Homo sapiens: one gene and its partner. The protein of the gene in region 1 purifies or fractionates together with the protein of each later gene. This does not show direct contact. Each region holds a gene or a part of one and is shown on either strand. Other genes may lie near its edges.

The links.
Region 2: the proteins of ECI1 (region 1) and REXO2 fractionate together in Homo sapiens (co-fractionation; one large-scale study listed by BioGRID). This does not show direct contact.

Annotation. Positions count from the first base shown.
Region 1 is NC_000016.10:2,245,088-2,248,587, reverse strand, and holds part of ECI1 (enoyl-CoA delta isomerase 1, mitochondrial isoform 1 precursor), read left to right. Parts: intron 1-1,601; coding exon 1,602-1,729; intron 1,730-3,500. UniProt on the Homo sapiens protein: Key enzyme of fatty acid beta-oxidation. Able to isomerize both 3-cis (3Z) and 3-trans (3E) double bonds into the 2-trans (2E) form in a range of enoyl-CoA species, with a preference for (3Z)-enoyl-CoAs over (3E)-enoyl-CoAs.
Region 2 is NC_000011.10:114,442,467-114,445,966, reverse strand, and holds part of REXO2 (oligoribonuclease, mitochondrial precursor), read right to left. Parts: intron 2,112-3,500; coding exon 2,034-2,111; intron 1,427-2,033; coding exon 1,315-1,426; intron 1-1,314. UniProt on the Homo sapiens protein: 3'-to-5'exoribonuclease that preferentially degrades DNA and RNA oligonucleotides composed of only two nucleotides. Binds and degrades longer oligonucleotides with a lower affinity.

The DNA of each region.
Region 1 (3,500 bases):
GCAAAAATTAGCCAGGCATGGTGGTGTGTCCTGTAATCCCAGCTTCTCAGGAGGCTGAGGCAGAAGAATGGCTTGAACCCAGGAGGCAGAGGTTGCAGTGAGCCGAGATAGCGCTGCTGCACTCCAGCCTGGGCAACAGAGCGAGGCTCTTGTCTCAAAAAAAAAATAAAGATAGAAAATGGTTAATTTGGCCGGGCATGGTGGCTCACACCTGTAATCCCAGCACTTTGGGAGGCCGAGGCGAGGTGTTCACGAAGTCAAGAGATCGAGACCATCCTGGCCAACCAACATGGTGAAACCCCATCTCTACTAAAAATACAAAAATTAGCTGGGCATAGTGGCGCATACCTGTAGTCCCAGCTACTCAGGAGGCTGAGGCAGGAGAATCGCTTGAACCCGGGAGGTGGACGTTGTAGTGAGCTGAGATCGCGCCACTGCACTCCAGCCTGGGCGACGAGCGAGACTCTGTCTCAGAAAAAAATGATAGAGAGAGAAAGAGAGAATGGTTGATTTAAAAAGCATGCAGTTTATATAGAATAAATAAAATTGTTAATTTATGTTATATCGATCTTACTTCAATGTAAAAAACCAAGGGCTCACTCCTGTAATCTAGCACTTTGGGAGCCTGAGGCAGAAGGACCACTTAAGCTCAGGAGTTCAAGACCAGCCTGGGCAACAAAATAAGACCTCGTCTGTACTAAAAAATAAAAAAGATTAACTGGGTGTGGTGGCGCTTGCCTATAATCCCAGCTACTCAGCAGGCTGAGTTGGGAGGATCGCTGGAGCCCAGGAGGTCAAAGCTGCAGTAACCAGAGATCACACCCCTGCACTCCTAGGTGATAGAGTGAGACCCTGTCTCAAAAATAATAATAATAAAAAAATAACCCCCAGGCCGGGCGCTGTGGCTTACGCCTGTAATCCTGGCACTTTGGGAGGCCGAGGCGAGCGGATCACCTGAGGTTGGGAGTTCAAGACCAGCCTGACCAGCATGGAGAAAACCCCGTCCCTACTAAAAATACAAAATTAGCTGGATGTAGCGGCACGCACCTGTAATCCTAGCTACTCGGGAGGCTGAGGCAGTCGAATCGCTTGAACCCAAGAGGCAGAGGTTGCGGTGAGCCAAGATCGCTCCATTGCACTTGAACCTGGGCAACAAGAGCAAAACTCCGTCTCAAAAAAGTAAATAAAAATAGGACCAGGCGCGGGGGCTCACGCCTGTAATCCCAGCACTTTGGGAGGCCGACGTGGGCAGATCGCGAGGTCAAGAGATCGAGCCCATCCTGGCTAACACGGTGAAACCCTGTCTCTACTTAAAAGAAAAAAATTATCCGGGCGTGGTGGTGGGCACCTGTAGTCCCAGCTACTCAGGAGGCTGAGGCAGGAGAATGGTGTGAACCCGGAAGGCAGAGCTTGCAGTGAGCTGAGATCGCGCCACTGCACTCCAGCCTGGGTGACAGAGCGAGACTCTGTCTCTAAATAAATAAATTAATAAATAAAACCCCCAAAATGCACAGCTATCATGGCTTAGTTGAGGGTGCAGGCTGGTCAGGCTGCTTTTCCAGTGCCAGGTGTGAGCTTTCTCTTCTCATTCTTTAAATTAGGGGTCGCTGTGATGAAATTCAAGAACCCCCCAGTGAACAGCCTGAGCCTGGAGTTTCTGACGGAGCTGGTCATCAGCCTGGAGAAGCTGGAGAATGACAAGAGCTTCCGCGGTGTCATTCTGACCTCGGTAGGTGCTAGTTCAGCTCCCTACCCCAGCCCGAGTTCTTGGCCTGAGTTCTCTGATGTGAGCCCAGGCCTGTTGCACATGGAAGAGGCAGAGCCTGCCAACGTGTGGCACAGGCCAGCCGGCAGCCCCACCACCCTGGACTCCAGGCGCCTTCACGGGAGGCTTCCAGGAGCACCGTCTGGGTGTGCCCCAGCAGGGACCCAAACTGCCATGGGCCTCAAGCAGATCATTCCCAAAGGTGAAGGTGGACCAGTCTCAGAGACAGCCTTCCCAGGAGACAGCTTTCCCAAGAGACGCCCTTCCCGGGAGACAGCCTTCCCAAGAGGCAGCCCTCCTGGGAGACCGCCTTCCTGGGAGACAGCCTTCCCTGCCCGGGCCGTCGTCCAGGCGGACACTGGGGAGAGCTGTGGGCAGCGAGTGAGGGAGAGCCATGCATCTATGGGGTCACCTTGGACCCTAAGCACACCTGGTGGTGGGTTCCTGGAGTGCTCCCCACTAGGATCACTTGGGTGCCCTGAGCCAGTCCTGCGAACAATACCCATGCTCTCTGATCCTCTGTGGGCCAGTCTTCAGGGCGAGTTCTCAAGGGTGAACCTCTTTGGTCTGAGTTCTTGTGCAGGGGACTCTAAATGTTGCCTGAGTGCTGGCGAACGCTAGGCGTGTCATCTGTGGGAACGGTGTCATTACCAACATCGCCGAGGGGCAGTAAGCAGTGTCAGGCCCAGGAGGATGGGACCCTTGAGGAGAAGCGGGCATTGGCTGAGGTGAGGGGAGTGAGGGGTCCTCGGAGGCTGGCGTGGCTTTACAGGGCCTGGCCTAGAACTCCTGACCTCAAGTGATCTGCCCACCTCGGCCTCCCAAAGTGCTGGCCACGTCCAGCCTTATATATTTATTGAGACAGAATCTCCCTCTCTTGCCCAGGCTGGAGTACAGTGACGTGATCTTGGCTTACTACAACCTCCGCCTCCTGGGTTCAAGCGATTCTTGAATCTTGAAAATTTTTAAAATTTTTGGGAGAGACAGTGCCTTTATTGCCCACGTTGGTCTTGAACTCCTGGGCTCAAGCACTCCTCCCACCTCGGCTCCCCAGTGTGCTAGGATTACAGGTGCGAGCCATTGCACCTGGTTAATTTTTTTGCTTAATTTTTACTTTTTTGTACAGGCGGGGTCTTGCTATGTTGCCCAGGCTGGTCTTGAACTCCTGGCCTCAAGCAGTTCTCCAATCTTGGCCTCCCAAAGCTCTGGGATTACAGGCATGAGCCACCACGCCAGGCCTGGGTTTTGAGTAACGGAAGTAGAACGCGTTTTGTAGAAACAAAGGACCGGCCTACCCATTCTGTGCGGCACCAGCTCACACCTGTTTGGGAACAGCGGAGCTGCGTTGCCCACCCGCACCGTTCCTGGCTTTTTCACATCGCCTGAGGATGTGGAGGCCATCCCATCTGTCCCAGCCGCCTCCTCCTCGCACACATTAGGTGGCTGTCGCCCTCCTTCCTGCAGACAGGGCGGGGTAAACATCCACCCAGCTCTGCTTGTGTGAGTCAGGGTGAGCTGGGTTCAGCTGCAGGAACAAGTTCACCCACAGCCTTGGGGGGTCTGGCCCTCGGGAGGAAAACGTGCCGTGTTGTGCAGAGGGGAAGGTACCCTTGTCATTTGCTCAGGGGGCTGTGACCATGCAGGGTCCCCAGGGTGGGTTCTCCACTCCTCCCCGAGCCCGCCTCCCTGGCCGGCAGCCCTGACTGGGAGTCTGAGGCTCCTGTGCTGGCGCCCG
Region 2 (3,500 bases), on another chromosome or scaffold:
GAAGCATACTGCATCTCTATATTTCTAGTATTATACAACAGGATATCAAAATTCATAAGTTGTATTTGAAATGGAGATGATTTTTTAAAATTCAAACAATTCCTAAAAGCACCTCTATATTTCTAAATCAGGTTTGGGTAAATGTGATTAGCTTACAAGTACAGATTTCCAAGTACTTAGTCAGTTTAGCTCCTTATAAATTTGTAAATGACCTCTCATGAACAGAAGGACAAATCTATCATTCCACATGCTTGATGTAATGCACAAATCTATTTGTTACTTTCTAAGGTCATACCTGATATGCAAACTTTCTCCCAGTGTCACAAAATTCACACCACTAACACTAAAAATTTAACTGAATCACATAGGTAGATAAACCTTTATTTACAATCCAAATTTTTAAACAAATCATATGCATATTTATGTCCCCAAAAAGTAACTTATACTAAAAACACTAAATTTTAAATGAGACCTTTAAAACAGATATCAGCCACATTGGCTGGCGGAAACATTTACACAATATATGCTCTAGTACTTAATGCCAAAACTTATTTTTATAAATGTTTAAGAACAGTATTAGCTACCACATCGACTTACATATACAAACGTACATATACCTTCAGAGAAACATTAACTTCCCTCTGGCAATGTCACCCTTTTAAAAATCCTGGTAGAACAGGCCTGGTCTCTTTAGAAAGTCAATGACACAGGGGAAAAATAATAGGTGGAAAGTTTTACATTAAGAGACTAAAGAAATATAACTAAATGAAATGCACGAGCCTTGACTGAATCCTGGTTCAAAAACAAATATTTTGGGGAACATCTAATGTGGACTAGATATCATATGATACTGAATAATGTTTAATTATCTTCAATGCAATGACATTGTATTACATAAGAAAATGTCTTTATCTTAGGAGATGTTTGATGAAGTATTTAGGAATGAAGTGTCCTGATGCCTGCAATTTCCTTTAAAATGTCCAACAAAAAATAGGTAAAACAAATACGACACAAGGTTAACAATTACTAAATCCACTCCTCTGTGCATGTGAAATTTTTCCATCATAAAAATATGGGAGAAATTCTTATTGAGTAAGTTTGTGTTTCCCAGATCTCATGTCAGGTTTCAGGGCATTTTCCCAATACTCATGCTATAAACTACACAGAGAAACTTGAACAGAAAAGTTAAGATGTGTAACCCAAAGCAGGGTTAAGTGGAAGACATGGATGGGCTCGGCTAGTCTTTCTGGAACTGCAGTCTCTTGAACCACTACATATGGAAGACTATAAGATATACACAGGATTGGATTTTACCTGCAAGTGGACAGAGCCCTGGAGGAGTCTGCTGTCGTACAAAGGACAGAAATTCATACTCTGCCTGCTGCAATGTAATTGTACTCTCCTTCACTGCCTTGGTAAGGCCAGACTGCAAGAGAGAATCCCCAGCCCCCCACCAAAAACACATGTAAAGTCAGTTTTCAAAGGCATCCAGAAATGAAATTTCACTTTTAAAATGGGCAAATATAACCACAAATAGACCATTTTTAGAGCTCAAGTTCAAATTGCAACTGCCATCTTTGCACCATTTTTTTTTCTTCAAGAATCCAAGCCAACTTAGTTATGATCCTGACTGTTAATAGCATGTCCACAGTCAAAAAAGACGGTGTTCAAAGTCCAAGGATATTAACCTCTGGGAAGAAACAACTATTAACAGGAGAGCAGCAATCCCCCTTCTCTGAAAGTTGATGTCTAACCTTATCCAAAAGACTGACTTGAGTAATACTTGACAATCCACAATGCGTTCGCGACAGACTGAATGTAGGAGAGAAAAAAAAGAGGACATTCAGGAGAAGATGATCTCGAGAGGTCCCAAAGATGAAAAGTAAACAAGCAAGCAGTTTCCCAGGCTTGCCATGCAATCTTCTCTAAGCCTTTTTAAAATACCATCCAACAATGGTATCGGATTCAGGTGTGGGAGCAAAAAGCTTGCTACTGATCCCCAAAGCAGCAATCCTGTTATTTGGTAATGTTACCTTCCCGTGATGCTCCTTACACCAATCTGACATGCTGTCCAGCAACTCATCTGGTTGTTTTATAATCAGGTTAGGACCCTGTGGATGGGAAACGCCATCAGTCACCAAGAAACAACAGGAATAACCTTACTTTCAGAGGGAAAGCTTAAGCTGTTTTAAGGACTAAATATACATATCAGAGAAAGTAAGAGATAAGGATACTTTAAGTGTTCCCCCTTCATTCCAGCACTGTTCATTAAGGCAAAATAGAACATACGAACATACACACACCACTGAAAACTCTAATCCTACAAATAGATGACACAGATATCTATCAAGGGTCAGCAAACTATGGCCCCACACTTCAGCTATTTATTAATAGCTAGAAAGCTAAGAATGATTTTTACATTTGTAAAAGATTGTTTAAAAAAAAAAAAGAACATATGACAAGAACATATGACTGCACTCAAAGCCTAAACAATTTAATAACTTGCTCTTTCCAGAAAAGTCTGTCAACCCTTGATTATGAGTTCATTTTGAAAAGTGTCTAGGCCAAGCATGGTAATCCCAGCACTCTGGGAGGCCGAGGTGGGAGGATCACTTGAGGCCAGTAGTTCAAGACCAGTCCAGGCAACATAGCAAGACCTCATTTCTACAAAATTAAAAAAAAAAAAAAAAAAATTAGGTGGGCCTGGTGGCACACCCCTACAGTCCTAGCTTCTCAGGAGGCTGAGGCAGGAAGATCACTTGAACCCAGGAGTTCGAGGTTACAGTGAGCTACATGCCACTGCACTCCAACCTGGGTGACAGGGTGAGACCCTATCTCTTAAAAAAAAAAAGTATCTATATTGCAGGTGAAAAAAACAATTGCAAAACCATGTATGTATAGGTATGATTTCATTTACACTTGTTTTAAAAAAAACACGCATTTATATAAACATACAAAATATCAAGACAATACATAAACTTGGAGTAAGAAGGAGCAATAGAACAGGACAAAAATCCAATAGTTCACTACACACATACTTTGGATAGTTACACTGTTTTAACAGTATTTTTATATTTAAAAAAAAATTAAAGAGGTAATTGTTGATATCCAAAACACAAAGTAGCCCTCAAATTCTCAGCTCCATTTCATAGAACATCCAAGTATGAGTCTCTCAGATAAGTCCTGGCAGTTAACAGTAGCTACGGCATTAAAGCAAGTCACCTCAGCTTCTCCCTCTGTAAGATAGTGATAATAATAAACTGTACCCCTTCCCTCATAGAAATGTTAACAGGATAAAAGAAATTATAGATATGAGCTCTTTGAACTCTCTGATAGAAAAGTATTCCATAAATCCAAGGTATTATTACTACTAAGGTGGTAAAAACAGTTCACAATCACTGAAAGAAATGGCTAGAATTTAATTAAAATACGCCTGACATCCTACTACTAAAAAGGAGATTTAGCCAAACAAGAAAACTGGTGTTGGTAATCTCTGCGAA